Linked DNA regions of Homo sapiens. The protein of the gene in region 7 purifies or fractionates together with the protein of the main gene of each other region. This does not show direct contact. Each region holds a gene or a part of one and is shown on either strand. Other genes may lie near its edges.

Region 1 (4,458 bases), on a different chromosome or scaffold from region 7:
AAGTTCTTGCACATTTATAGTTTAGGATTATTCAAGCCATGACACTCTTCTGATACTATATATTTTAGAAATATAGGCACTTATCTGTTCTCACCAATTTTTATAAATCCACTTTGTCAAATGAAACCGTGCAGTTAGGAATTTGTCATAGATGATGAGAAAATGACTGCCTTTAACTATGTACAGAAAAGTCAAACAAAAGATTGATTGAGGAGCCCAGAATGAATTTACCGGCTTAGTATAATCTAGATAATATTCATATGTGAAGACATTAGGTCAAAGAACAAAAGGTGTGAGTTTAATTTCAGCATATTTCTATCTGTAATCTTTATAAAATCTACTCAAAGAAAGTACTGTGACTATTCAGCAGTCTAGTATTATGTAGGGAAGAGAACACTGCACAGACAGACCACCCAAAGCAACCCTGACACTCAGAGAAATTAGGTAGGCAAAGAGGTACTAATCAACTAGCATAAAAGTAACTAGAAATTAAGTGGTAGGAACATGAAAAAATATATATGTTTAATATACACCTCTTGATTTTTGATCAGACACCCACCTTCAAGCAGTACTTTTACCAACTGACAATTTTTAGAGACTTTCTGGAAAAAAAAAAGATAATTCTTCATGATCTAGCTTTTTACTTAATAGCTCTGTACTATGATTAATTTCTTTATGAACACCTACTATAATTCTTTGGCCCTAACGATATATAACTCTCCCCCCAACAGCTGACAACGTCCTTCCATATTCCCTCAGGCTAAGTATTCACCTGGCACTAGTATTCAACAATAACATGACAAGTACACAAGGAGGTTCCAAGCAGCACTATTTGTAATATCCAACTCAAATGTCTATCAACAGTAAAATAGGTAAATTGTGATTTAAATAGAGAGTATTATACAGCAACTAAAATGAAAGAACTACTGCTGCATGCAATGAGTGAATCTCACAAACATAATAATGAATGAGAGTAGCCAGATACAAAGGAGCACATACTGTATGATTCCATTTTATATAAGTTCGAAGGAGGCAAAACTAATCAGTGATGATAAAAGTCACAATAGTGGTTTCCTTTGGTGATGATAAGGACTGGGAGGGGACATGAGGAGGCATCTGTGGGGCAGGGACACTCCCTACCTTGATCTCGGTAATAAGTACATGAGTGGTCACTATACAAAGATTCATTGAGATATACACTTATGATCTGCACACTTTTCTGTAGCCATATTATATTCCAATAAAAAGTATACTTAAGAAAAAAGAAGCAGCATTAGAGAGCATGGAGAAAGTAAAACAAAGCAAAGAAAATTGAGGGAGGATTAGAAAGAGACTGACTGGAATAAATGTACAGAATGGAAAGAAAAATAGTTGCTTACTTTCAGATTCTAGGAGAATGCTACCTCAATGTTAGGTATTTTCCCAAATATCTTTATACCTTTCTGTTATTATGAACAAATTGAATGTTTTCTTTGTTACTGAGATCCAGCTCAGTCCAATCTCTTACCTGCTTTGGATAAAAATAAGCTCATTCCACCAGAGCCTGAGCCAGCTTCCAAAACAGTATCACCTGGGTTGATATCCATCATTGAGAGAATCATATTAATATCCTATGATTGAAAACAGTATGGGTGACTCAGCGACCAATAAATATGTACTAAGCACCTAGTCTTATCTTACATTGTTGGGTGTGCAGAAGAAGGGAGTGAAAAAACGAATCAGACTCTGGACCTGCCTTCAGTTTATATTTCACTTGATGAAATAAAAGAGATCCAAGAATCAATTAACAAATAAGGCAACACTTCAGAATAATACCAAAATTACAGACAATAAGTTCATAGAGTAGCAGGATGGCCTAGTTTAAAGACAAAGAGTAGACAATTTATGGGAACAATCACAAGGTAAAAACAGCTTTAAACAAAGCAGAGGTAGAATAAATCCAGTTTGTTATCTCAGGAGAGATAGGCAGAGAATTAAATGCCAGTATGAGGCATTAGAACTCAGCCTGATAAGCAACTAGGGTGTGTCACTGAGGTGATATAAATGGCATTTTATGAGGATTAATCTGGCAGAAGAATACAGGATCTACTGGAGAAAAATCAAGAGGCAGGAAGACCAGTTAGGAATTTACTATATAATCTCTGCATAAAATGATGAATTTCCTTTTTTTTTTTTTTTTTTTTTTTGGGAGACGAAGTCTCACTCTTGTCCCCCAGGCTGGAGTGTGATGGCACGATCTTGGCTCACTGCAACCTCCGCCTCCCGGGTTCAAGCGATTCTCCTGCCTCAGCCTCCCGAATAGCTGGGATTACAGGTGCCTGCCACCATGCCCGGCTAATTTTTGTATTTTTAGTGGAGATGGGGTTTCACCACGTTGGCCAGGCTGGTCTTGAACTCCTGACCTCAGGTGATCCGCTCGCCTCAGCCTCCCACAGTGCTGGGATTACAGGTGTGAGCCAGTGTGCCCAGCTCAAAATGATGAACTTCTTATTTTTGGGGGGACAGAGTCTCGCTCTGTCACCCAGGCTGGAGTGCAGTGGTACAATCTTGGCTCACTGCAAGCTCCGCCTCCTGGGTTCAAGCGATTCTCCTGCTTCAGCCTCCCAAGTAGCTGGGATTACAGGCACCCACCACCACACCCAGCTAATTTTTTGTATTTTTAGTAGAGATGGGGTTTCACCATGTTGGCCAGGCTGGTCTCAAACTCCTGATTTCAGGTGATCTGCCCGCCTCGGCCTCCTAAAGTGCTGGGATTACAGGTGTGAGCCAACGTGCCTGGCCAAATGATGAACTTCTAATTTAGAATTAAGATACTATATAACAGCGGTCCCCAACCTTTTGGGCACTAGGGACCCGTTTCGTGGAAGACAGTTTTTCCACAGACTGGGGAGAGGGGGATGGTTTTGGGATGAAATTGTTCCACCTCAGATCATCAGGCATTAGTTAGTTTCTTATAAGGAGCATGCAACCTAGATCTGGTGCATGCACAGTTCACAAGAGTTTGCACTCCTATGAGAATCTAATGCCATGGCTGATCTGACAAGAGATGGAGCTCAGGCAGTAATGCTCACTACCCACCGCTAACCTGCTGTGTGGCCCGGTTCCCTGTTACAGGCCACACACTGGTACCAGTCCTCAGCCTGGGGGTAGGGGAGCCCTGCTATATAAGAAAAAAAAGAGACTATGCTATTACTAGATTGGAGGACCCACTTGCCAAACATATAATTGGAATTGTTTTTGTTAACACAAATATTACGGATGATATTAATAAAAACTGTTTTTTTAAATTTAGTAAACAAATTTTCTTGGTGACAGGGTCTCTGTCACTCAGACTGGAGTGTAGTAGTGCAATAGTAGCTCACGGCAGCCTCGAACTTCTGGGCTCAAGCAATCCTCCTACCTCAGCCTCCAAAGTAGCTGGGACCACAGGCATGTACCACCATGCCCAACTAATTTTTTTTTTATTTTTTATAAAGATGGGGTCCTGCTATGTTGGCCAGGTTAGTCTTGAACTCCTAGCCTCCAGCAATCCTCCTGCCTTGGCCTCACAAAGCACTGAGATTACAGGTGTGAGTGACGGCACCTGCCCCCTCACTTTTTTTTTGAGATAGGATCTTACACTGTTGCCCAGGCTGGAGTGCAGTGGCAAGATCATGGCTCGCTGCAGCCTCAAACTCCTGGGCTCAAACAATCCTCCCATCTCAGCCTCCTGCGTAGCTGGGACCACAAGTGTGTGCCAGCATACCTGGCTAATTTTTTATTTTTTGTAGAGACAAGGTCTCCCTATGTTGCCCCGGCTGGTCTCAAACTTCTGGGCTCAAATGATCCTCCTGCCTCAGCCTCCCAAAATATTGAGATTACAAGTGTGAGCCACTGCACTCTGCCTCTGGTCATATTTTTAATACTAAGATGGAATTATGTAATTCTAACAGGGAGATCAGTTTTTAAACATCAGTGAAGGTATTCCCTCAAGCATTTCAAAGTTGTAGAAGTTGAAGTAAAACTATCTCCAGCCATTACTTGGAAGCTATAAAGAGAAGTCAACACCTAACAAATTTAGTACTTAAATTCCTCCTTAGAGTGGAACAATGTGACTTTTATCTGTAACAAATGGAAAGGCAGAAAGTATACTAAATATGCATATTTATAACTTCATGAAATGTAACTAATCTCTCCTGATTTTGTCTAATGGGGAGAAAGGAGACACGGGGAAGCAAGATAAAATTACGAAAGTCTTTTAGTTTTCTTCAAGAGCTTATGATACCATGGCCAGGAGCGGTCGTTCTCACCTGTAATCCCAGCACCCTCAAGGGAGGATCCCTTGAGCCTAGAGAAGTTTGAGACCAGTCTGGGCAAGTTAGGGCGACCCCAACTCTACAAAAAAAATTTTTGATTAGCTAGGCATAGTGGCATGCACCTGTGGTCCCAGCTACTCAGGAGGTTGAGGTGCGAGGATTG
Region 2 (4,458 bases), on a different chromosome or scaffold from region 7:
CCTCAGCCTGTGCCCGAATGAAAAGGCATGTGGAACTAAGCCAGGCTTAGCCAAGATAGAGCTAATCTATAGACAACCCACAGCCTCATGGACAAGAAATATGTTCCCTTCATATGAACCTCCACCTTCCTCAGCAACCTATTCACTTATCTTCTGTGACTTTTGCTTCTGTTTACAGGGATTTGCCCTAAGTCCACTAGAAAGTAGGTTTCACGAGGGCAGGCAACTTTTCTATCCTGTTCTCTACTGGCTCTGCAGCTTGTGGTACCATGCCCAGCACAGGGTAGACATTCAGGAAACATGAGGAATGAAAATTATTATGAACTAGAATCTAGACTTCTGTACCTTTTTTACCATAATCTAAAAACTTTAAACACACAAATCTATTTAAGGTAAACTTCAAGAAACAAAGTATTCTTAAGTGATTTAAATTGCAAGTATTTACATTTAAAATTACTTTCATGTGTTCTTGAGGAAAAGAGATAGTCTTAGAATTATCTCATGGGACTGGACCCTTGCACACTGAAACACATTGGAAGAGAACAACAGAGAACAGGCCAGGTGAAGAGATGGCAGCGCTGTGTCTTATTTTTACACTTCATCCTAGAACTGTAAAAGCAATTCCACCTGGAGAAATCTTGGCATTTCACAGCTGCTGCATCAAGAAGAAAGAAATTGTAGGGAGCAGATAGAAATTACAAGAACAAAATATTTTTCTGGATTTTCTTAGAAAAACACAAAGATGGAGAAATAAAAATATAATCAAGCAATTGTGACACAATTAACTTGTTTAATTTCTGCAACAGCTTAAGTATTTCCAGGGAAATCTTGTTTAAACTTTTATTTTGTTAGCAAACTATTTAACACACATTTGAGATTAGCACAGTCTGACTGCTACTCAAGACAGACATCACAAGTATTTGATTAAGTGAGATTGATGAAATTTTTATCATATTAAAACCTTAAAATGTCTAGAAAGTTATGATTATAGGCTGAGTGTGGTGGCTCACGCCTATAATCCCAGCACTTTGGGAGGCTGAGGTGGGCGGATTACTTGAGGTCAGGAGTTCAAGACTAACCTGGCCAACATGGTGAAACCCCGTCTCTATTAAAAAAAATCCAAAAATTAGCTGGGTGTGGTGGAGAGCACCTGTAATCCCACCTACTCGGGAGGCTGAGGCAGGAGAATTGTTTGAACTCCGGAGGCAGAGGTTGCAGTGAGCGAGATTGTGCCATTGCACTCCAGCCTGGGTGACAGAGCCAGACTCTGTCTCAAAAAAAAAAAAAGTAAAAAAGTTATGGCTATAAAACAAAGTCTTAATTCTGATGAAATGTTAATACTATGTCAACAAACTTACAAATTTGGAAGTCTATATTCTTCACAATTCTTTAATTTTATTGTGCCATTTGTTCACAAAATAAAGATTAAAATGAAATTAGCTTCTACTACCAATTACACAGAAATAAAAGGAACAGTGCTCCAAGTCAACACAGATCCAGGGATCTTACTCATATACTACATTGCAGGCATTGCTTAAGCTCCAAGAAAGGCATCATACATACAACTCTTTAACCAGAAAACACTTACAAGCAGCCTCTTGTCTAAGTTGGCTTTTCTCAAAGACGAGGTAACAGAGTTGGCATCTTTTTCTGCCATCCATGCTTTGAAAAGCTTGACAGCAAATGAGGCCGCAATGCCTGTTGAAAAACAAAAGAGAATTTCATTCCTTTTACGAGCAAAACCAATTGTGATGGTGTGCAAAGCAACCAGGTTTCCTGAAATGTGTAAATAACTAAAAGACTAATTTTGGTACAAATGAAAAGTCAATAGACCTCTAGGCAAATTCTCCTCTTCTCATTACTCAAACTAGAACATTTTCAGGAAAAGGAAAATAAATTAAAATATTTTTCAAATTTGGACTCCTTGAATCCAACCTGGTCTAACTGCAAGTTTATTTTATTTTACCTTGGTCAAAAACATATTTCACACCCAGTATCTTTGGTGTTATTGCCTTTATTTCACCCTCTGGTTCATATGTATTTCATCTTTATAACAGTGATCTTGAGGCACAAGAAAGTAAATTAGGAGACACAAAACTGTAATGTCACCTTTATCAAGTAATTTGCTAATAAAGGATGCCAGTACAAGAACACTGATAGTGATAGATACAATAAGTATTGCTACGAATAGATGAACACATATCATTTACCTTAGTTTTGCTTTTTATAAAAAGCATTTTATTTATTTATTTTTATTTTTATTTTTGGGGGGATGGAGTCTCACTCTGTCGCCCAGGCTGGAGTGAAGTAGCACGATCTCGGCTCACTGCAATCTTCACCTCCTGGGTTCAAGTGATTCTCCTGCCTCAGCCTCCCAAGTAGCTGGGATTACAGGCATGCACCACCACACCCAGCTAATTTTTGTATTTTTAGTAGAGACAGGGTTTCGCCATGTTGGGCAGGCTAGTCCTGAACGCTTGACCTCAGGTGATCCACCTGCCTTGGCCTCCCAAATTGCTGGGATTGCAGGCATGAGCCATTGCACGCAGCCATAAAAAGCATTTTAAAATATTCTTGAGTTAAGCTATAAAAATACCAAGGCTGTTTCAAGTTAAACTCTTCTGGATTTAAAAAAAAATCATTATTAAGCTAGTTATGTTAAATCAGGAAACCATTTAATCACATGTCCACATTTACATTACCACTTATTTCCAAATAGAAATAATCAGATAACAAGAAGACAGTTCTATGAACACTTCAAATTTCTAAATTTATGTTGCGGTTATTTAATGAAGAGTTAAGATGTAACTGAAACATTTAACTGATTTTTCTAAACTGAAGGTTCTACTATTGTTATGAGCTAATGATAATGTGGCCTAAGCAGCCTCTATTCTCTTTACCTCCTTCCTAAAAGAGGTCCCCTTTTATCCAGTCCAGGTGACTACTGATTAGTCTAAGTCCTGGTACCACCCCTTTCTGATGATTAATTTAGTGACCTCGCTTAAGCTCATCTGCCCAAGGCACGCCCCTGGCAATTGCTACTGGACCTGCACTAGTCATGCAGCCTGTGTCAGCCAATCAGCTGAAGGAAAGATAAATTATCCTCTGTTCAGGAGAAGTGTTCTTCCACTGAACCTGAACCAGGAAGAATATGCCATAACTGTGTCAGCAGGCATCTTATAACAACTAGAGGGGGCACCATCCTTGGGATGAAGTTAATGCTATGAATGATAACAGGAGAAAAATACTTAAGTCCTGAATGATACTGCTGTTCAGCCTGAGGTCTGTCCTAATTTTCTATTTATTGTTACATAAGAAATCCATGTCCTTATATACCAATTTGACCCAGGTCTTCCAGCAACTGGAAAGTAAAAGCATTTAATTGGTCTATCATTCATATAGACACCAACTAAACCTGATTTTCTTCCCTTGAATAAGCAAAGAAACTAAGTTAAAAAAAAAACAAAAACGGCTATAACAACAAAACATGCATTACACCTTAACTGAAAGTTCATGTTAAACAACTTAAGATGAATTTTTAGCATTATCATTAGCTCATAAAACCAATATAAAATTTAATATAAATTAACACTAGGCTGTAATCTGTATCGTAAAGAAAAACTACGCTTGAAACTAGGAGCCTAAAACTGAGATTTAACTTTCTTTATAGTTACTCCTCTGAGTAGGATAATCCCATCTCCCTTGGTCATTTATTGGATGAGCTGGGGAAAATGATTAATTTCTTAACCATTTTCTTTATTTCTTTTTTTTTATTTTAGATAGTCTTTCTCTGTTGCCCAGGCTGTAGTAAGATGATGTGATTATAGCTCACTGTAGCCCCAAACTCCTGGGCTCAAGCAATCCTCTTGCCTTAGTCTCCTGAGCAGCTGGGATTGTACAGGTGTGCCAACACACCTGGCTAGTTTTTAAATTTTTTTTTGTAGAGAAGAGAGTCTTGCTTTGTTTCCCAGACTGGTCTCAAACTCCTGGCCTCAAGCAATTTTTTTACCTCAGCTTCCCAAAGTGTTAGGATTACAGGCATGAGTTACCATACCCAGCATTTTCTTAATCCTTTTCCAATTAGGAAGCAAGGGTTTAAACCTCTAGTTTGTAAAAGATGGCAGAGTTTAAGGAAAAGCCATATAACAGAGGTACTATGTTACTTCCATAGCAAAGTTATTTTTCTCCTCACCACCCCCCAAACATTTTACTACAATAATTTCCAGACATACAGAAAAGTTGAACAAATTGAACAATGAACATTCACATGCCCACCATCTAGTTTCTATAACTAATATTTTGCCGTATTTGCTTTATCAGATATCTATCCACCTAATAACGTAATTTTTGGATATATTACAAAGGAAGTTACAGACATCACTTAGGTTTTTAAAAAAACTAGAAAGGCAATTATTTTCTGTTATGTTGGCTAGGATAATTTAAAATAATTAATGATTA
Region 3 (4,458 bases), on a different chromosome or scaffold from region 7:
AGTTCAAGGCTGTCCGGTTGTGCACAGAATGCAACACCTAGAAGGTAGTCCCTTTCCTCAAGGTGTGCAGACTGCTATTTCAAGATCTTGTACTAATCCTTCCCCTACCCCCTGTGTAGATACTCCATCCTTCAAAAGGGCAAGTCCCACAGCTCTCAATAGGGCCTTCCAGGAAAAGCCATCACAGAAGGATATATCCACTGGTTTGGGCTGGGTGATGGTGGGGGCAGAGAGGAGGGTGGCAGTGGGTTTTCCAGACTTACTCTGTCTACTTATTCCCCTCATGAGCCTCAGGCCTTTTCATTTCCTCCAGCACTACCTGGGATCTACCTTAATTTTCCCCACTTTCCTTTTCCTCTCCTGGTCCACCTTCCCCTCTACTCTACCTCGACACTGGGTCAGCCTCTACTTTCCCAACATTCAAGCTGTTCCAGTTACACTTATTTGAGGCATCTTTTCCCATCTTGGGGAACAAACAACAGCAATCCTATTCTCTGTCCCTCTTCCCTGTCACTGGCTGAACCCACTCCCACACACACAAAAAATCACCATGGATCCTCTGGCAAAAAGGGCCCGTATTAGAGCTGGGTTCATCCTTCAGTGATTGTATCAAAGATGGGCTGGGATCACCATGAAGAGAGAGTTTGGAGAGGGGGTGTCAACTGTTAGCCTAATCAGCCAGACTGGGTTTCTAGTGTATGGATATAATTAATTTATTTCACCAAAGCGATGGGGATAGGGATATAGTTAAAATTTGCGGGTGAAAATACAAAATCAGGGAAAAGCCGGGAAGAAACAATTCTCAGAGCACTCCAACAACCCTCATCCAGATTTAGGAAAACTAAGGGACAGGGAAGCCATTTTCCTATATAAAAATCCTCTGTTTGCCAGGCGCAGTGGCTCACGCCTATAATCCCAGCACTTTGGGAGACCAAGGCGGGCGGATCACCTGAGGTCGGGAGTTCGAGACCAGCCTGGCCAACATGGAGAAACCCCGTCTCTACTAAAAATACAAAATTAGCCAGGCGTGGTGACACATGCCTGTAATCCCAGCTACTCAGGAGGCTGAGGCAGGAGAACTGCTTGAACCCAGGAGGCGGAAGTTGCAGTGAGTGGAGATCGTGCCATTGCACTGCAGGCTAGGTAACAAGAGCGAGACTCCGTCTCAAAAAAAAAAAAAAAGAAAGAAAGAAAAAAAATCATCTGCTGATAATAAGCCCCTGTCTCCTTGAGGCCCCCAGATTTGGTGTCTGTTTACAAATACTCAGCTTCATTCAGGCCTCTGAAATTTTCACTCCTGGTGTTTCCTAAGGACAGAGTTGCTGGACAATACAAGGCATCCTCCTGTCCCTCCCCCACCTTCACCCTCACCTCTCTGAACAGTTCACATTGTAGGGAGACCAAACCACAATAGCTCCACAATGACAAAAGCTGCAAAGAAGCGGCCAAAGGCATAACCCTATTCACCAGCAGCCCCTGGAAGCCAAGAGCTAAGGTTCCTCGCTTGGGGTACTCCAGAGGTAAAGTCCCAATGGGGGTGGGCAGAGAAGAATGTGAACTGGAGATACACTCCTTTTTCTATTTCCTCAGCCTAGGGCTGTCACCTGTCACCCAGCTGTGGTGTTAAGCCCCTCCTGCCCCCCACATACAACAGAGAAAGAGAGCAGATGTTGAATTTGAGCTGCAGGGAGGGACCAAATCAAAGGGTGGGGTGGAGGGATTGTTGAAAGAGAGTTACTATGAGAACTCCCACTAGGAAAAAGTATTCTGAGCCTTTTCCAGAACAAGGCAGGACTGCTCAAACTTTAGCTGGTGAGATTTTTCTAGGAACTACATTTATTTTTATATTTAAGATTCAAATTCATATTTGGGAAAATGTGACCAAGACAATGAGCCTTAAGGTGCCGTCAGATCCTTTACCTATAAAGGCATCACCAGTATTCTTATCAAGAAGTATCACTGCCTTTTGGAATTCTAAAAGAATTAATCACGTTTTCTTTAGGGCTATAGCGTCTGGAAAAACTGCATAAATTTTTTTCTCCTTGTGTAAATGTAAGACGTTACTTCTCCTAGGTAGACAGGTAGAAGGCTTTTTCCAAAGTTTGACTCATATCTAACCTTCAGATATAAAAATCCTGAAGACCTGCCACAAGTAATGCTGGGATTCACAACTGGAGACTTTAATGTGGATATTAAACAAGTCTCACAAATAAAGACTTAGAGACCCTAATATCCCAAAACGGAAGCCTCACCTTCTGCAGTCTTGCCACCTTCTCATAGCATCCTTCCAACTCTTGCCTCAAGTTCCGGTTCTCGTCTGAGAGGATCTCAACCATCTGCTGGGCTCTGGAAACAATGGCAAAAGGGTCTGCTGGCACTGGCTGATAAGAAGCAGAGGATGGCTGAGCCCGAGGCATAGCTGAATAGGCTTCTCCTGGCTGCTGCTGTGGCTGCTGCTGCTGCTGTTGTTGGTGGTGATGGTGATGATGGTGCTGCTGCTGCTGTTGCTGCTGCTGCTGACTCAGGCCAGGTTGGGAGAGACGGTAATGATCCCCCTGGTGAGCCTGATTAGGAAGGAAATGCTGCTGCGGCCTAGGCAGGTGAGCTGAATGGTCTCCCTGGTTTGGGACCAAGGGGTGTCGGGCAGGAGACAATCTAGTGGATGGTGGAGATTGTAGCAAGGGCAAGGACCCCCCAGAGGTCAGAGAAGAAGTAGGGCTGTGAGGCTGCGAGTTCCTGGCTGACAATGGCAATGAGATGTCCTGCGCTGGCCTGTAAAACATGAAGGGCAGGTGCGGGTTAATTTCTCTCCTAAGGCACTGGGGGAGAAGGGCACACAAAAGTGAGATGAGGAGGCTTCTGATGCCCCCAGGACACCTGCAAAATGAAGAGCAGGCAGGGTCTGACTATGGGGAAGTCTAACCCTGCCTGCTCTATCTCTGCAAAGACCACAGCCCTTTTCCAGCCTGACCTTCTGTGCCTCTGCCTGACAAACAGAGGTGTGATCCCATGAGGGTCAGAACCAGACAACTTCCATGGTCACTTTGTGAAAATCGTAGTGATACACACCTGTACACCCGTTTGCTCAAGTCTAAACATTTCAAACGATTCTTCTACAAGGTAATTTTCATCTCATTATTTTAAATTAAACCTTTTCTGACATTATACACGTGGTCCAGCACACATAAAGATCCTAGTTTAGAAACTATGTTCCATTTGCCAGGATGGAAACAACAAACAGCCATAAAAACCACCCCCATCTTGCTATCTGCAACTCCCTTTAGTAATTCATACATTCACAAAAAAAAAGAAAAAAAACTATTCAAGGATTGGTAGATACTTATATTAGAGACACTAAATGATTATTGTTGCTTCCAGTTGTTAACGATTTAATGATTCCCATTAGCAGTAACCATAAAAAGACTTGAAGAGGGTTACAAGCAATGCTAACATACTATTTTTGATGTAATGAATCGCAAAATGTAAGAACTGGAAAGGCCTTAAAAGAAAATTATTTAGTTCAACTCTATCACTGGACAGATGGGGAATGAGGTCCAGAAAGGGGAAGTCATCTGCCAAATATTAGAGTGGTGGTGCCAAGATAGAATCCTTCTTTCCCAATTCCCATTTTCTGGCTTTTTCTACTGCCATAATGCATTGATTTCTGTGCACTGATACTTAGATTTCCAACCTATTGCTCATAGAAAGTTCCAGAAAGAGACCTTTGGTACATTGTTTAATGTGGCTCTCCCATTTTTGTACCTAATTACCAGGTACAAAATGCTAACACCTAAGTATAAATAATTCATACCTAATGACTATTAGCCATTAAGGGAAACAATTAGTATGTGGATGGATCACTTCCACCATCACCACTACCAGGAATAGTATCTGTCAGTGTGCACTGAAGACAAAAAGCTTGTTCATGCCCTAGCTCATGCCCAATTAACCTCATATGCTCCCATGTCCTGTGGACACTTGTTCTACAGTTGATATTTCTCAATCCAGGGAAGACAGATGGCTAAGTGCATGGGATCTGGATCCCAACAGAGGGAGTCTGGAGACCTCTTCTACTGCTCACGAGCTGTGTAACTTGGTGCAAGTTACTTAATCTGCATGAGCCCATTTTATTCTTGAGGTCACAAATAAATTGCAAAAATACTGGGGTCTTCTCATTTTTGGCGGAATAGGAATTACAGTCACTTCTCTACCTCCCAGTGAGATAAGCTGACCTTGTTAGCTTGTTACTTAAAGGATATCCATTTAATCTTTGCAATAAATTGCATAAAATTCATGGTGGAACTGGGACAAATCACCAGGAGCAATTAACTTTTAACTGGCATTCCAGATGCTAAAGCACATTCCTCAGACACACACTCCAGTTACCATTACTGTTCATGTATCCATCTTTACAAGAGATCTTAACTATAAGGGCTTTTTACAGCTACAAAATCATTC
Region 4 (4,458 bases), on a different chromosome or scaffold from region 7:
CCCTCCCTCCCTCCCTCCCTTCCTCCCTTCCTTCCCTTCTTTTTCTTCCTTCCCCGCTTCCTCCTTTCTTTTCTTTCATTGTTTTTGGAGACAAGGTGTCATTCTGTTGCCTGGGCTGATGTGTGATGATGCAATCTTATCTTACTGTAGCCTCAGACTCCTAGGCCCAAGCAATCCTTCTCCCTCAGCCTCCCAAGTAGCTGGGAATACAGGTGCATGGCACCATGCCTGGCTGATTTTAAAATTTTTTGTAGAGATGGGTCTTGCTTTGTTGTGCAGGCCCATCTTGAACTCTTGGGTTCAGACAATCCTCCCACTCAGCCTCCCAAAGTGCTAGGATTACAGCTGAGCCACTGCTCCCAGACCAACTTTCACAATATATTAAGTGAGAGAAAGGAAAGCAGATTTCACAGTAGCGGGAAATGGTTACATTTTATTTTGTTTTTAAAGTTTATATGTGTATTTTTACACAAGGGGAAGTCTAGAGGTATATAGGGGTGCGTGTGTGCGCGTATGTGTATATATAGATGTGTGTCTTTATATACATATGTTGATGATAGTTGCCTCTGGATATGAGATTTCAATCATTTAAAGTTTATTTCTTCTTTCTTGACTCTTTTTCATTCAGTAAACTTTTTTTTTTTTTTTGAGGTGGAGTCTTGCTCTGTCACCCAGGCTGGAGTGCAGTGGCACGATCTCGGCTCACTGCAGCCTCTGCCTCCCAGGTTCAAGCGATTCTCCTGCCTCAGCCTCCCAAGTAGCTGGGATTATAGGCGCACGCTACCATGCCCGGCTAATTTTTTATATTTTTGGTAGAGATGGGGTTTCACCATGTTGGCCAGGCCAGTCTCGAACTCCTGACCTCAAGTGATGCACCTGCCTCGGCCTCCCAAAGTGCTGGGATTACAGGTGTGAGTCACTACACCTGGCCCATTCAGTAAATATTTATTGAGCTATTGCTGTGGCCAGTCATTGTATTTTCTGAAATATTATTTGTACAATTAAATTTGATATTAAGGATATTACAATTACAAATGTTTTCACTAAATAATTAAAATAATGACTTGGTTATTAAAGTGGTATGTTATTTGGAAAATTCATTTACTTGCAACACTACTCATGAAAAGTACAGAATAAAATGAAATGTTAGTGCAATGTGCTGAAGCATTCAGCCAATATGATGCTAATAGGAGAAATGATTTTCATTTGTATGAAACAGTCTCTATCCAAGGTAGCCTTCATGTGGGAGGAGAGATGTTTGCATGCTCTACATTGCTTTTATTTGACTCAGAAATAGTTTACATAGGTGAAAAGAATCGCTTTTTCATGATGAGTAGCCATAGATGCATGTTTTTACTTTTTTTTTTTTTTTTCCAGACAACTACAAGAACAGCAACGGCAAAAGGAGCTGGAGCGGGAAAGGCTGGAGCGAGAAAGAATGGAAAGAGAAAGGTTGGAGAGAGAGAGGTTAGAAAGGGAAAGGCTGGAGAGGGAGCGACTGGAACAAGAACAGCTGGAGAGAGAGAGACAAGAACGGGAACGGCAGGAACGCCTGGAGCGGCAGGAACGCCTGGAGCGGCAGGAACGCCTGGAGCGGCAGGAACGCCTGGATCGGGAGAGGCAAGAAAGACAAGAACGAGAGAGGCTGGAGAGACTGGAACGGGAGAGGCAAGAAAGGGAGCGACAAGAGCAGTTAGAAAGGGAACAGCTGGAATGGGAGAGAGAGCGCAGAATATCAAGTGCTGGTAAGAAGTTTACAAACTCTTCTGTGTTCTTGTATCTGAGCTTGGATGATGTCTCTTGTGCAGTCATGTGTTAAAATATTTCACATTTGAGATGTTTGGGATTAAGCCATACAATTTGAAATTATGAATAAATATGCAGCAATTACTACTTTAACATTTTCTTTTTATTTCTCTCTGTATTGCTTTTATTGCTTGGAGACTTAAAGAAAGCTCTTGGAAATTTTTATTCTGCCATTCTAATTCTTCTAACACCCTATAAAATGGCTATAAAGTGTAAGTGTGTTTTTATGGGAAATTTTTTATACTGGATGAACTTCAAATATATTTCCCTCATGAGATCACTTAAATTGTCTCAAATACTATAGTACTGTAGTACCATTCAGCAAGAAATTTGCTTGATTGCATTCTAAAGATTTTGGAGGAAGAATTATTTTAGAGAAATATTCTCTAAGACTAGTTATTTAAATATGCTTTCTAGTATTATGAAAAATTAGTGAAAATTATGGAATCTGGAATTTACTGAAAGACATAAGGGTTAATATATGGCTGAAAGTTTGAGATATTTTAACGTTTATTAAAATTAACATTCATTATAGGATTTAAGAATATTCCTTATGGCCTAATTAAAAAGTCTTAATGTGGTTTGATTAAACAGTGGTTGGTTGGTTGGTTTATTAAGTTAATTTATGTATTTTTAGCTACCTAATTATTTTCTGGAGTTATGGCCAACAAAACAAAACTTTTCCACAAGTTAGCATTGAATAGGAGCATTGAACCCTTCATATTAAATGTTTTGCCAGCTTTACTAGTTTTGCTATTTGTTGTTTTTAAAAAAACAACTAAATTTATTCTTCTGTTTATGGTCCTATTCATGTGATTTTAATGTCCTTTTTCTTGTAGACTAAATAAAAATTAAGACTAATACTAGCTTTTTCTTGTAAAAGAAATTAGTCAATTAAATTTATTAATCCACTTATTAGATAAAAGGAAACTTATTTCATCCCCTTCTGAATCTCAAAATGTATTTACAAGTTAAAATATTCTTGGGTGAAAATAGTTATTTGCGTTTGTGCCTAATTCTCTGATACTAACTGTAGTCTACATTTATACATTGTGTCTGAATGCTGGTTTTGTGGCTTCACTAGCTCCCTTTTTCTCTCTCCTTTTTTATCCTGTCTTTTGCTGCTGCTTTCCACCTTCTGTCCAGCTCCATCTTCAGACAGCTCCCTGTATAACGCTCCACTTCCTGAGTATTCCAGTTGCCAGCCTCCTTCAGCACCTCCTCCATCATACGCTAAAGTCATCTCAGCTCCAGTGTCAGATGCCACTCCTGATTATGCTGTAGTGACTGCTTTGCCACCTACTTCCACACCCCCTACACCACCACTGCGACACTCAGCGACACGTTTTGCAACATCTTTAGGTTCAGCCTTCCACCCTGTTCTTCCCCATTACGCTACAGTTCCTCGTCCTCTGAACAAAAACTCTCGACCTTCTTCTCCTGTGAACACACCCTCTTCTCAGCCTCCAGCTACGAAGCCCTGTGCCTGGTCTACTTCCAATTTTTCGCCCCTCCCTCCATCTCCTCCAATAATGATTAGCAGCCCCCCAGGCAAAGCTACTGGTCCAAGGCCTGTCCTCCCTGTTTGTGTTTCTTCTCCTGTGCCCCAAATGCCTCCATCACCGACAGCACCCAATGGGCTGGTTGACTCTGTAACATATCCAGTGTCTCCACCGCCTACCTCAGGGCCAGCAGCTCCTCCGCCGCCGCCTCCACTGCCTTCCCTCGCATCACTCTCACACTGTGGATCTCAAGCTTCTCCTCCTCCAAGCACCCCTATTGCCTCAACTCCCTCATCCAAGCCTAGTGTTCTCCCTTCTCCCTCTGCAGCTGCCCCTGCCTCTGTTGAGACTCCTCTAAACTCTGTGCTGGGAGACTCTTCTGCTTCTGAGCCAGGCTTGCAGGCAGCCTCTCAGCCGGCCGAGACTCCATCCCAACAGGGTAAGGCTTTCATTATTGCTACTAACAGCTAATCACTTGAAAATGTTATATAGCAGTGACTTTAATTGCCTGAATGGATGGGTAGGATGGTTTTGATCCTTGAACATTTATATGCCATAATGCCATGCTTTTTTTTTTTTTAATTAAAAAAATTAAAGTAGAAAAATGTTTTTCCTGTTGGATTAATTGCATTTGGAGGAATTTCCTTATTGAACTAGGTTTTGATATCTTTTATAGTATCGCAGTTAAAGATGTTTTCTAGTATTTAAGAGCCCCTCATAATACATTTCTTTATTTTTTTCTTTTTTTTTTTTGTTTTTTTGAGACAGAGTCTTGCTGTGTTGCCCAGGCTGGAGTAGAGTGGCACGATCTCAGCTCACTGCAACCTCCACCTCCCGGGTTCCAGCAATTCTCCTGCCTTAGCCAGCTGAGTAGCAGGAGTTACAGGCACATGCCACCACGCCTGGCTAATTTTTGTATTTTTAGTAGAGACAGGGTTTTGTCATGTTGGCCAGGCTGGTCTTGAACTCCTGACCTCATGTGATCTGCCCCTTCGGCCTCCCAAAGTTGCTAGGATTACAAGTGTGAGCACCGCACCCAGCTAATACATGTCTTTCACTGGGAAAACTTTGCTTGACACGTTGATCTACCACACAATAAATACATGATCTAAATTGTTTTCCTTCATTTTTCTGGGAGACTTAGAGAGAT
Region 5 (4,458 bases), on a different chromosome or scaffold from region 7:
CAAAGAAACAAATCAAGCAAAGCAAAACAAAACCACCAAAAAAACTTGTAAGGGGATCCTATTGTGCAGCCAGTGTTGAAAACCACAGATCTGGTTGAACCATATGAAATTACCAACATAAAAATGGCAATATCATATGGTATAACTGAATAAAAGGATAAAGGAAAAAAAACAGCATGTTTGAAAAAAAATGTGTTGAGATGGACGCCTATTTGTAAGTTTATTTGTATTTGCCTTTAGCTAAATGTGTGTAAATATACAGTTATACATATATGCATTTCTCAATTTCATACCTTGCTTAATGGGTGTAGATACCAAAAGATAAGAATAAAACACATACAAGTTGGAAATTTCTGGGCCATGAAAAAAAAAACATGCAAAATCACATTATTGCCAACATGACTTACTTGATCCCCATAAGCATGACGACCTATGATGATAGGTTTTACCCATCCACTCACAAGCCGGGGGATATTTTTGCAGATAATGGCTTCTCTGAAGACCGTGCCACCCAGAATATTTCGTATGGTGCCATTTGGTGATTTCCACATTTGTTTCAACTTGAACTCCTCAACCCTCTTCTCATCAGGAGTGATAGTGGCACATTTGACGCCAACATTATGCTTCTTTATAGCTTCTGCAGCATCCTTGGTGACTTGGTCGTTGGTGGCATCACGATTCTCTATGCCTAAATCATAGCTTGAAAGAGAAAAATTAGAAGCAAAGTTTTTCAGACAAATGGATAGTTATAACCTACAACTGCAGTGATGGCATATAGAGCTCATTATGCAGAAAGCGAAGGCTCTGAGTACACCAAAATCTGCCAAGTTTTAGCACTGGCACACCCTAAACACAGAAGATGGGTGCCAACTACAAAGAGAACTAAGAGAGGCTAGACTGCTGGGCTGCCCCTCCTCTTGTAATGGGAAGCTGTCTATCAGGAAAATGAATGGAAACCATCAAACTCTGCCCTTTGCCTCCTGTTTTTCACCAGATAGAGGCAATAATGGCCTGGTTTCTCTCCATATAATTAGTATAATAAGTGTAAGTCTAAGGACCACCTTTTTCCCTTAGTAAATATTGCTCTTTAAAAATAAAAGGGGGTGGGAGGGGTTAAAGGATTTTTTGTATTTTGACGTTGAAGTGGTGGGAGGTAAAGATGTGACAGTTGATGCCAAAAATGCGAATGACTACTTCATTAATGCCAGTTAGTCATAAAATGAGCCTTTCCCTTTTTTTTTTTTTTTTAGATGAGTCTCGTTTTGTTGCCCAGGCTGGAGTGCAGTGGCACGATCTTGGCTCACTCAACCTCTGCCTTCCTGGGTTCAAGTGATTCCCCCGCCTCAGCCTCCCCAGTAGCGGGGACTACAGGCATGCACCACCATGCCCAGCTAATTCCTTCTGTAATTCTTGAGCAAGTGTTTGCTCTGGAAACAAGCCTACAATTTATTGGGTAAGTAAAGGAATCCATCAATGGTTTTCTACATACCAGAGAGTAATAGCTTAATATACACCAACACAAAGATTGCAGGTCATTCAGAGCTGAAAGAATGTTAGTTGTCCAGGGAGCATAGAAAATGACTGCAAAGCTTTATTTGAAGCATGCAATAGTTTGTTAAAAAGCAAGAAAACAAAATAATGTTTTGTTTATTCTGTTCTCCAAGGATTTAAAAGGTTTTTCAGCTCTTAAAACCTGCCTCTAGATTTCTTTTTGGTTCCCTTATCTTCCTTTCTTAGATCTCCTACCCAACTCATGATGCAAACAAAGAGATAGTAATCTTGACATATTTCCAAATAAAAATAACTTCCAACTGCTTCGACTTTAGATAATTCATATAAATCTAACAAAGTCATGTCCTTTGTTATCTTCTTGCATAGGAAATGTTGATCCAATCCCAACTCCAACAGGAAGTATGATCAGTAGTTTTCAAGTTCCTAGGAACCATTTCTCATAAGGAGAATCTATCAGCAAATTATTAGATTTTTTGCTTGTCTTCTTAACATTTCTAAGAAGATAAGAAAGGAAGGAACAAATTGCCCAGACCACTGTCCAGCCTACATAAAACAAACTACCTGCTCCATTCTCCTGAAAAAGAACCAGTCAGTGATAATAATAGGAATTTTGGAAAAATTTAAAACTTGTTTGAGCCTCCAAAAATTATCTAGTCTGCAGCCACCAAATTTTTTCCTCCTAGTCATAGTGACTCCCCTTTAAAACTCCTCATGATTCCACACTAAAGAGGCTCAAAGCATCTTTAGTTGCAGCCATTATAAGGAAAAGAACCCTGCCAGTTCACCTACTGTCATGTAAAGTCCTGAAACAGGAGTTCCTAAGATGCTTTTTTTTTTTAACCTAGTTGGAAGATGTTTTTATGCCTAATTTCTTATGTTTGGTTGACTTCTGCAAGTATTTATATCTTATCATGATTTCAATATAGACATCAGCAGCTTAGGTTTAGAACAATTAAAAAGTATGTTTAATGACATTATGTGAATTAAATGTCTCCACTCAAACAGGTCCTTAGGACAAATTTTGATGACTAATTCTGGGCTGAGGCAAACACACTTAGAGTTGCCAATAGTTTGGCTGAAACGTGTTGCTCAATATTTTTCTATGCCAGTCTTCAGCCACTTTACCCTTTTAAAAATTCTATCTCTACCTAAAGGTACAAAGAACAGAAGCAAGTTTATGAAAAACACAGCGAAAAAAATGAGAGAATTACATAGACTTTTGCATCTGTCCCCAGGCACTTTACACACAGGGCAAAGGGACACAGGATTTAAGGGAATTTTGCTGGAAAGGAGGGGTTCAACTAAGAAACATCATGAATTCTTTCTGCACTACAATTGTATGAAAAGGGCAAAAGGTGAGGCATGAAAAGGAAACAGGTCCATTGACTAAGTAAAGTGATAGAAAATTGAGTTTGAAATGACAAAATTGTGTTAACTGCATTTAGTTTACTGTTTCTTACATCCTCTCTTATTTCCCTTTTCTCAATACATTGTACTATTCTTAGCCACTGTTTTATTACAAATAAAACCTTCACAGGAAACAGAAGGTTAGAAGAATCTGAAAATCATTCTTTCCCTTATAATTCTTGACTTTTAGATGATAAATCCAGTTTTTCTAGCAGTATGTTAAAATTAGAAGATTCATCTGAATATATTTAGGCTTAAAACAAACTTTATTCACAAAACACAGCTATATCTATATAAAAAAAGCTAACTTCACCTCAAAATAATTCAGATTATATTCTTTTTTTTTTTCCTGTTTCTCCTTCCCTTTTTTTTCCTTTTTTTTTTAAAGTGATGGGGTCTCACTCTGTTGCCCAGGCTGGACTTGAATTCCTGGTCTTGAGGGATCCTCCTGCCTCTGCCTCCTAAGTAGCTGGGACTTCACGTGTGCACCACCATGCCCAGCCAGATTATCCTTTCTGAGTTTGCTACACGGAGGGGTAACTCATTTACCTATGTAGATCCAATTCCACGTAGGGAAAAATGAGTTTCTCTTTAATCAATTCCCAAATGATTCGTGTCATTTCATCTCCTTGCATCTCTACCACAGAACCGCCACTGATTTTTTTGGACATTTTGACTTCAATAAACCTAAAAAGAAAAAAAAAATACATGCCTTGTCATTTATTTCATTATAAAGTGAAATATATAAACAACGTAGTGTTTATATAAACAACGTAGTGACTACTAAAAGAACAATTCATGCAATTCAATTTATGTGTAGTTGAATAAAAAGCTAGTAACAGCAATTCTATTTACCATTAGAATTGAGTATCTTCTCTGAACAAAGTATTGTGTTATGTTTCACACGCGGTTTCTGAGCTAGCCCTCATAACAATCCAAAAAAATGGCCATCATTTCCCCATTTTACTTTGTTAAAAAAAAAAGAGCTTTCCCAAGGCCACCTAGCTAGAGCGTGGCAGAGCCTGACCCTATAACGTGCCCTTCATAATGCAATCATTATTCTCAACTACTGGTTTGTCTTAAGAAATGAGATTATTTCCACAATCTCATGTTTATTGAACACTTCAGTCCAACTCATCATTTTACTGGGCTCTCAAGATGTCCAGAATGGTGAGTGCTAGCATTTCTCCTCCTTTAAGAGGCTGTTTTTGTTATTTAATAAAAATAACTAGCCATGAGGAGATTCAGCTGGTTCCTGTGACCCATATTCAGGGAAACTTTAAGTCTAAAAGCGAGACGAAGAATTCCTGGTGGAACTGTTTTCCTAGAGATAACACAGACATTGGAGATGTGGGGCTAAATACAACAAAGTGATTTCTCAATTAGAAGAATCTCTATACAGTAGGGCCACTGCCCAGGACCCAAGCATGTCCCTGTCATCTTCTTCTGGCTGTTCACAGGCAAGGGTAAGCTGCTAGTGAGTGGGATAGGACAAACTGTGCATTGTCCTAGGAAGACAGCACTTTAAGGATAGGGTGT
Region 6 (4,458 bases), on a different chromosome or scaffold from region 7:
TATCTAATTAACTGGATAACTGCTATGAAAAAAATCTGACAGGCAAATGAGAGGAATATGGAGTTCAGAAAGAAAAATCTCATATATGAAGAAATAATCCCAAGAAGAGGAAATCCCTCATAAATTTTTATGAAACATTCAGCAAATACGTATCATGTACCAGGCAAAACATATTACAAGTATTTCATCAGCAAATTAAAACAGTAAATTTACACATATATATATGTTTTTTATATATAAAATATATAAGTGTGTGTGTGTGTGTGTGTGTGTGTGTGTGTGTATATATATATATATATATATATATATTTTTTTTTTTTTTTTTTAAATAGAGACAGGGTCTCCCTATGTTGCCCAGAAGGCTGGTCTTGAACTCCAGGGCTCAAAGACTCCTCCTGCCTTGGCCTCCCAAAATGCTAGGATTACAGGCATGAGCCACCATGCCTGGCCACAGTAAATTATATTGTATGTTTCAATCATAGAAGTTAATATTTAATTTCACATACCTGCAAAAACAATCTTTGCTTTGTATTTCTGAATGCCCTTCACGGTATAGCCCCACTTACGAGCTAGTTTACAGGCAGTCTCTCCAGCCTCCACTCCTATCAGGAGAGAAAAATGTTCAGATTTTTTTAAAATGTTAAACTATCAAAAAATAAAAAGATTATTTTTGAGGGTATTTAACAAAAAAAGGAAATGTTTTACCTGTATTCATAGGAAGAACTTTGTGGTAGTTGAAAAGTTTAGTAATATACTCCTCATATTCACCAAGTACGTTATTATAGAAAGCTCTAGATGTTAAGGTCAATTTGTCCACTTGACTCTTCAGAGCATTCACAATCTTGGGGTGACAATGCCCTTGGTTGACAGCACTGTAAGAACTCAGGAAGTCAAAATATTTTCTGCCTTCTACATCCCATAAGTAAATACCTAAAATACATAAGAAAGGAAAATAATTTTAGACAATTACTATACGGCATAAAGTCCAAAAATTAAGAGTGCTAGCAAGCCCTCTGAATGCCTATATATGAACCTCTATTTAATACATATTTGTAGTTAAAGCTTGTTTTAGCTCAGGCATAATAAACTTTGGTTTGTAAGGAATTACTAAGAATTGTATTTTATCTGCCCAGCTTCAAAACACACATTTAACAAAAATAACACAAAAAGGTTATAAACTCTGGAGTAAAACCTTTACCTAATTCTAAGATTTAGGATCCAAAATTAGAATTTAAAAGCAGAAGTTAGGCAGGGAGCCGTGGCTCACGCCTGTAATCCTAGCACTTTGGGAGACCAAGGCAGGGATTGCTTGAGCCCAGGAGTTCCAGATCAGCCTGGACAACACGGCAAAATCCCTGACGCTACAGAAAAATGCTGGGCATGGTAGTGCGCGCGTATGGTCCCGTTACAGAGGCTGAGGTGGGAGGATTGCTTGAGCCTGGGAGGTAGAGGATGCAGTGAGTTGAGATTGTGCCACTGCACTCCAGCCTGGGCACCAGAGCAAAATCCTGCCTATAAAAAAAAAAAATAAAATAAATAAAATTTAAAAATAAAAAAGCAGAAGTTACACATAACAGACAAAAATCATGAGAAGTAGACTGTAATAACCCTTAGGATGGAAAAAAAATATTTGTAAATCATGTGTCTGATAAGGATCTAATATCCAGAATTCTTACAACTCAATTTCAAAAGGACAAACAACCCAATTTAAAAAATGGGGAAAGACTTGAATAGCTATTTCTTCAAAGAAGATATACAAATGGCAAGAAACACATGAAAAGATGTTCAACATCACTAATCATTAGGAAAATGCAAGTTAAAACCACAATGAGATACCATCTCATACTCCCTGGGATGGTTATAATTAAAAAAACAACTTTTGACAAGGATCTGAAGAAATTGGCACTCTCATACATTGCTAGTGGGAAAGTAAAAACAAGGTTGCCATGTCATGTAATATGAAACAGATTTTCAATAGTTCAAAAGAAGATATGTCTACAGTACTGGTACCAAATAAAATACAAGCAAATGACCAAAATGTGTGATACTCTTATATTGTCATTTTCTGGTACAAAGCTAAGTAATAAACTTTGGTTTTATTTGGTTAAGGCTGTTATTTATTCCAAATTGTAGATTAAATCACCATTTGGCAACTACCACCGTAATCATTTATTCAGGCAAGAATCATTAGTGGATGCTGAAATTGTGAGTAAAAGTTCATGAGTAACTGGATATTTACAGAGTTTTACACTCTGTCCCCACAAGATACTTAATACAAAGGGAAAGAAGACCAAGACAACCAAGGATTGAGGAACTGTTCTGGGTTAAAGAAGACTAAACATGACAACTGAATGCAACTCATCGGAGGTTTTTCTTTTGTTATAAAAGAGAACAAATGACATCTGGATTAGGTCTCTAGACTAATGGTGCTGTACCAGTGTTAAGTTCTTGATTTTTACAATTACTCTATGGTTATAAAAGAGAAAGTCAGCTGGGCACAGTAGCTCACACCTGCAATCCCAGCACTGTGGGAGGCTGAGTGGTAGGATCACTTGAGACCAGGAGTTCAAGATCACCCTGGGCAACATAGCAAAATCTAATCTCTACAAAAAATAAGCCAGGCATGGTAAGGCACACCTGTAGTCCCAGCTACTTGGGAAGCTGAGGTGGGAAAATCACCTGAAGCCGGGAGTTCCAGGCTGCAGTGAGCCATGATCACACCACTGAACTCCAGCCTGGGCAACAGAATGAGACCCTATCTCAAAAAGTCATTGCGTTTTTGGAAAGACACACTAAGTATTTATGGGTAAAGAGATGTCATGTGGCGGGGCGCGGTGGCTCACGCCTGTAATCCAGCACTTTGGGAGGCTGAGGTGGGTGGATCACCTGAGGTCAGGAGTTCGAGACCAGCCCGGCCAACATGATGAAACCCTGTCTCTACTAAAAATACAAAAATTAGCTGGACGTGGTGGCGTGGGCCTGTAGTCCCAGCTCCTCGGGAGGCTGAGGCAAGAGAATCACTTGAAACCGAGAGGTAGAGGTTGCAGTGAGCCGAGATCCCACCATTGCACTCCAGCCTGGGTGACAAAGCGACATTCCGTCTCAAAAAAAAAAAAAAAAAAAAAAAAAGAAGAAGAGATGTCATGTCTGCAACTTCCTCTCAAAACAGTTCAGAAAACAATGTAGAATATGCAGGCGGCGGGGGGAGAAGAGAAGGGAGTGAACACACTAAGACCAAAGCAGCAAAAAGTTAGCACTTGGAAAATCTGGGAGAAGTATAAAAGGAAAATGTCAGTACTATTTGTTACAACTTTTCTTAAGTCTAAAACTATGCCAAAATAAAAGTTAAAAGAAAAAAATGACAGCAATATGATAGTACTTTCCTTATTTCTCTTGCATTCCCTCTTGGTAAGGTCTACATGACAAAGACAATGGTTCCTCTTTGAAGCCTCCATAGCACCTAACACAGCAGCACTAGACACTCAATAAATGAATTAACTGGCCAGGCGTGGTGGCTCACACCTGTAATCCCAGCACTTTGGGAGGCCAAGGTGGGAGGATCACAAAGTCAGGAGTCTGAGACCAGCCTGGCCAACATGGTGAAACCCCATCTCTACTAAAAATACAAAAATTAGCTGGGTGTGGTGGCGCACGCCTGTAGTCCCAGCTACTCAGGAGGCTGAGGCAGAAGAATCGCTTGAACCTGGGAGGCAGAGGTTGCAGTGAGCTGGGATTGTGCCACTGTACTCCAGCCTGGGTGACAGAGTGAGACTCCGTCTCAAAAAAAAAAAAAAAAAAAGAAGAAGAAGAATTAACCATGTCTGCAATATACACATTAAACACATCTAGAAAAATGTATATTGTGAAAATATGGAAGCAATTTTTTTTTATAAAAGGTTTCAAGAAAAGGGAAAAGACGGATTAATTTGAAACGTACCTTTTCCTCTCTCCAGGGCTACAGGTAAAGGATGGTAGTTGTGTGCACCATACTTATATTCCCTTTCAAAAATGTCATCAGAGGTTGGAGGGCCTTGGACTGTTTTTTTAGTTGCAACAGATGTAGCAGAAGCCACTGAAGAATGAACTCCGCGACTAAGTACAGCAAACCTCTGCAAATGTGCTAGTTTGGAAAACATTGTGTCCTTCAAGTAGAAAAACCACAGATCTGTCCAAAGAAAAGAGAATGCATTAAGAGTGAGAATCCTTGGCTTATGCCTATAATCTCAGCACTTTGGGAGGCTGAGGTCAAAGGATCACGTGAGCCCAGGAGTTTGAGACCAGCCTGGGCAACAGAGCAAGACTCCATCACTAAAAAAAATTGAAAAATTAGCTGGGTGTAGTGGTATGCATCTGCAGTCCCAGCTACTCAGGAGACTGAGGTGGGAGGATTGCTTGAGCCCGGAAGTTGAGGCTGCAGTGAGCTGAGATTGTGCCACTGTACTCCAACCTGGGAGACAA
Region 7 (4,458 bases):
TGGGAGAAATAAAAAGTTTTGATAGGTTGGGGACAGTGGCTCAGGCCTATAATTGCAGCACTTTGAGAGGCCAAGATGGGAGGACTGCTTGAGCCCAGGAGATCGAGACCAGCATGGGCAAAACAGCGAGACCCTGTCTCTACTAAAAATTAAAAAATTAGCTGGGTGTGGTGGTGTATGCCTGTAGTTTCCAGCTGCAGTTATCTATGATCGTGCCACTCCAGCCTGGGTGACAAAGCAAGACCCTGTCTCAAAAAAAAAAAGTTTTGATTAAAAACCAGCAGCATAGCCTTATCAAACGCCCAGAATCAGAAGAAAGGAATCTGGATTAATGTTCTCTGAGTTTTCCTATCAAATAGAAATTTCAGTCAGTAAAATTTACGATATAGATGAAATTACTAATTGAGGCTTTCCAAACTGTCGAAAGCAGCAGCCTGTAACAGTCTATTTGGACCATGACAAAATGACTGAAAGGTTAGAATATACTTTTAGTAGGTTAAATCACGAGAATAGCATCAATGAGAACAGTTCAGTACTTCAAACAGTTACCTTCAATTTCTGTATCAACTTGTGTACCACCTTTCCCCTTCCCAGACTTGATTTTTGCTGATCCTGTGTTTATACCACCAGCAATTTGTCCTTTTATAAGTCCATTATGTTCATTAATGGGAGAAGGGCATTTCTGGGGTGATGATGGTGGACTGCTCATTTTATCTTTCTGTGTTCCTTGGCGATCCTTCAATTTTTTCTGCAAACGTTCATATGTTTTACTAGATCGTTCATCTCTAAAGTTGGACCTTCCATGTGTAGAGTGAGCATCTAGGAGGCAATAAAAACAAAATGTTAAGAAGATCACTTTCTCCAAATAAGTTTATGCCATGAAAAAAGAACAGAAAATAAATCTATCATATAAAACTTTTATAAAATATTTAAAAGAATTTTGCATAACAAAGCAACCTTTGTGTCTCCATAAACTATCAGAACCAAGCTTTGTGATTTATTCTAATTATATATATCTCTCTCTCAAGTAAATTTACAGAGAGATTTATTTCCTTCTGTTCTCAACTAATTATTAATCTCCATAGAAACAGCTTGGTGGTAACTTATGATTATTGTAGGTGAGGAATGAGACTGGAGCTGAGCAGTCCACAGTTCTTTTTCTTTTACTCTTTAGTAACTATTACTTTTCACATCTTTTTGAACCTTAAACACATAAAATAGGTAAAAAGAAAACCACTGCCTGCCTAAATTCCCTTATAACTCAAAAAAGCAATCATCACTGAAAAAAAGTTAGCCAAAAGAAATGATTTAGACTGTTTAACAATAACAATCTACATATAATGTATCTTCAGATACTATAAACTCAAGGTTGTGATTTAGAAGAATCCACTCATTCTAATAAAAGTCACATAGGAACATAATTAAGTCATTATGCTCAATAAATATTAATTCAATTGTCCCCAGAGTTTTTTAAATTTAAAATTTGTGATGAGAAAAATATTTTTTAAAAGCCTCAGTAAAAAGTTTTAATTTAGCAGTGCCTTAAGAAAATTAGTACAGTATTTTTGAAATGAGTATTATAAGGATATGTACAATAACATTAGAATGAACGTGGACCTCTACCTCACACCATATACAAAAATTAATTCAAATGAATCAATGACCCAAATGTAAGAGATTAAACTATAGAACTCTTAGAAGAAAACACGTCTCTATGACCTTGGATTTGGCAATAGTTTCTTAGACGAGACACCAAAAACACAAGCAATCAAAGAAAAAATTAGATTTCATCAGAATTAAAAACTTTTCTGCACTAAAGGATACCACAAGGAAAGTGAAAAAACAACAAGGGAGGAAATCATATATCTGATAAGGAACTTGTATCCAGAATATATATACTCTTACCTTTCAACAATAAAAAGACAAATATCCCACCCATTTAAAAAATGGGTGAAGAATTCAAATAGACATTTCTCCAAAGAAAATATATGAATGGGGCTGGGCGCAGTGGCTCACGCCTGTAATCCCAGCACTTTGGGAGGGTGAGGCAGGTGGATCACAAGGTCAGGAGTTCAAGACCGGCCTGGCCAAGATGGTGAAATCCCATCTCTACTAAAAATACAAAAAATTAGCCGGGCGTGGTGGCGCGCACCTGTAATCCCAGCTATTCGCGAGGCTGAGGCAGGAGAATCATTTGAACCTGGGAGGCAGAGGGCAGAGGTTGCAGTGAGCCGAGATCATGCCACTGCACTCCAGCCTGGGCGACAGAGCGAGACTCTGTCTCAAAAAAAAAAAAAAAAAAAAAAAAAGAGTGAAACTCCATCTCAAAAAAAAAAAAAAAAAAAAAAAGGAAAAGAAAATATACAAATGGCCAATAAGCACATGAAAAGATGATCAACATTAGTAGCATTAGGGAAAAGCAAATCAAAACCATAATGAGAGAGAAATTTATTCAGGATGCCTACAATCAAAAGACAGACGATATCAAGTTTTGGCAAAGAAATTGGAACCCTCATACATTGCTGGTAGGAATATAAAATGGTGTAGTCACTGTGGAAAAGTAATATAGAATTAACATATGACCCAGCAATTCCACTCTGAGGCACATACCCGGAAGAAATGAAAATATGTCAACACAAAAACTTTTACACAAATGGTCACAGCAGTATTGTTCATAGACAAAAAGTGAAAACAACCCAAAGGTCCATCAGCTAATGAGTGATAAAATGTAATCAACAGAATGCAATATTATTGCAGCCATAAAAAGGAACGAAGTACTATTATATGTGAGAACATGAACTTTGAAAACATGACATTAAGTGAAAAAAAACTAGACACAAAAGTCTACATACTGTATGAACATTTTAATGAAATTTTTATATGAAATACTTATATGTATATTTATATGAAGTCTAGAATAGGCAAACCCATACAGACAGAAAGTAGATCATGGGATGTGAAGGAACAGAGAGTTGGGACTGACTGTTAATATGCACAGTTTCTTTTTTGGGATGATAGAAATGTTCTGGAATTAGACAGTGGTACTTAATACAGTACATACTGAATATAGAAAACATTGAGTTGCATATGTTGCACAATAAAGTAAATATATTAAAAACCACTGAAGTGTAAAATGATGAACTGTTACCTAAATTATATCTCGACAAAAAGTTAAGAAAAATAGCAACTGCAATCAATTAGATCAATTAGTACATACTTTAAAATGCTTTATCTATTATTCAAAATAATAAAGCTACCATGGAAGAGAAAAAAGAATATATTATAGTAGAAAGAGAAGGAACTTAATCATTGAATAGATCTGAGAGGGTTAAAATTCTGAGCAATTAACTAGCAGTGTGGCCTTGCAGAAATTACTTAACATTTCTGAGCCTCGGTTTCCTCATTTGAATTTTGCAGAATTTTATTGAAAATTAAGTGAGATAATACATGTGTGAGCATAGTGCCTAGCAAGGTTCAGGCTCACTAATGGTACTGCTAACAGTGAAATGCTGGATCAGATTCCACTTTGAGAATCCATATGGATTGTGCATGGAAAGGACATCACGGAGGTATAGCCATTGGTTAGAAAACCAGTACTGTCAATAATTAGCATTTAGTGGTAGAATCTCTGGCTTATAACCTCAAGTACAACATGACTCCTCCCTTTTACCACTGGGTAGCTAATTTGTGGATTTGTGCCCTTCACTTTCCTTCATATCAATGTAGATCACATCCATGTATTCTAATGCATATCCCTACAGAATAACAAGGGGTTTTAACAATGCAAAATAGTAATAATTGTAATACTAGCTTTTTCTTATAGTTTTCTCAGATTATAAGAAAAAATTAATATTTTTAAAACTAAGTCATAATTAGCAGTAAACAAAAATAGGATGAGACTAATCTGCAGTATAAACTTTTGGTACTCAAAAGTATGTTCCTTGGAGCACAGCATGAACATCTCCTAGGGGCTTGTTAGAAATGCAGAATCTCAAGCACTACCCAGAGCTACTGAACCAATTTGCATTACTTGGGCAATAGAAATAAGTTTGACAAATACATATGATGTGTACAATATATCCACTATTTACAGGCTGTGTTGTGTAATTTCAATTTTGTATTTGAAGTTATTTCTTCTGCAAATGTACTGAGCATAAGTGACAGGCAATGCTAAGTGCAGGGAAACAATAGTGATTAAAATAGATTCAGTTCTTAGGGAGTTGATAGTCAAATAAGGGAGACAGCCATACAAATACACAATGACAAAAAAGAAATTGTGTTAAGTTCTGTGAAAGATACAAAGTTCAGTGCTAGAGACTAACAAGGTAAGATCAGGAAGGTCTCTCTGAAAACTGAAATCCAAAGGTTAAAGGAAATTTACAGAAAAGGCAGAGAGAACACCATGTACACAGGGACCGAGGCAAGAAAGAACTTGGTGGTTTTGAAAAACTGAAGAAA

Evidence for each region.
Region 1: the proteins of FNDC3A (region 7) and TRMT61B purify together in Homo sapiens (affinity purification with mass spectrometry, with the first as the bait; one large-scale study listed by BioGRID). This does not show direct contact.
Region 2: the proteins of FNDC3A (region 7) and BZW2 purify together in Homo sapiens (affinity purification with mass spectrometry, with the first as the bait; one large-scale study listed by BioGRID). This does not show direct contact.
Region 3: the proteins of FNDC3A (region 7) and AMOT purify together in Homo sapiens (affinity purification with mass spectrometry, with the first as the bait; one large-scale study listed by BioGRID). This does not show direct contact.
Region 4: the proteins of FNDC3A (region 7) and ENAH purify together in Homo sapiens (affinity purification with mass spectrometry, with the first as the bait; one large-scale study listed by BioGRID). This does not show direct contact.
Region 5: the proteins of FNDC3A (region 7) and IDH1 purify together in Homo sapiens (affinity purification with mass spectrometry, with the first as the bait; one large-scale study listed by BioGRID). This does not show direct contact.
Region 6: the proteins of FNDC3A (region 7) and OAT purify together in Homo sapiens (affinity purification with mass spectrometry, with the first as the bait; one large-scale study listed by BioGRID). This does not show direct contact.

The regions. Positions count from the first base shown.
Region 1 is NC_000002.12:28,863,510-28,867,967, forward strand, and holds part of TRMT61B (tRNA (adenine(58)-N(1))-methyltransferase, mitochondrial precursor), read right to left. Parts: intron 1,611-4,458; coding exon 1,508-1,610; intron 1-1,507.
Region 2 is NC_000007.14:16,687,037-16,691,494, reverse strand, and holds part of BZW2 (eIF5-mimic protein 1), read right to left. Parts: intron 1,699-4,458; coding exon 1,589-1,698; intron 1-1,588. UniProt on the Homo sapiens protein: Translation initiation regulator which represses non-AUG initiated translation and repeat-associated non-AUG (RAN) initiated translation by acting as a competitive inhibitor of eukaryotic translation initiation factor 5 (EIF5) function.
Region 3 is NC_000023.11:112,813,106-112,817,563, forward strand, and holds part of AMOT (angiomotin), read right to left. Parts: intron 2,773-4,458; coding exon 2,253-2,772; intron 1-2,252.
Region 4 is NC_000001.11:225,516,485-225,520,942, reverse strand, and holds part of ENAH (protein enabled homolog), read left to right. Parts: intron 1-1,377; coding exon 1,378-1,745; intron 1,746-2,952; coding exon of another isoform or gene 2,953-3,636; coding exon 3,637-3,747; intron 3,748-4,458. UniProt on the Homo sapiens protein: Ena/VASP proteins are actin-associated proteins involved in a range of processes dependent on cytoskeleton remodeling and cell polarity such as axon guidance and lamellipodial and filopodial dynamics in migrating cells.
Region 5 is NC_000002.12:208,247,962-208,252,419, forward strand, and holds part of IDH1 (isocitrate dehydrogenase [NADP] cytoplasmic), read right to left. Parts: intron 3,607-4,458; 5' UTR 3,591-3,606; coding exon 3,469-3,590; intron 700-3,468; coding exon 408-699; intron 1-407. UniProt on the Homo sapiens protein: Catalyzes the NADP(+)-dependent oxidative decarboxylation of isocitrate (D-threo-isocitrate) to 2-ketoglutarate (2-oxoglutarate), which is required by other enzymes such as the phytanoyl-CoA dioxygenase.
Region 6 is NC_000010.11:124,408,036-124,412,493, forward strand, and holds part of OAT (ornithine aminotransferase, mitochondrial isoform 1 precursor), read right to left. Parts: intron 4,166-4,458; 5' UTR 4,137-4,165; coding exon 3,938-4,136; intron 931-3,937; coding exon 706-930; intron 603-705; coding exon 507-602; intron 1-506. UniProt on the Homo sapiens protein: Catalyzes the reversible interconversion of L-ornithine and 2-oxoglutarate to L-glutamate semialdehyde and L-glutamate.
Region 7 is NC_000013.11:49,132,693-49,137,150, reverse strand, and holds part of FNDC3A (fibronectin type-III domain-containing protein 3A), read right to left. Parts: intron 820-4,458; coding exon 550-819; intron 1-549. UniProt on the Homo sapiens protein: Mediates spermatid-Sertoli adhesion during spermatogenesis.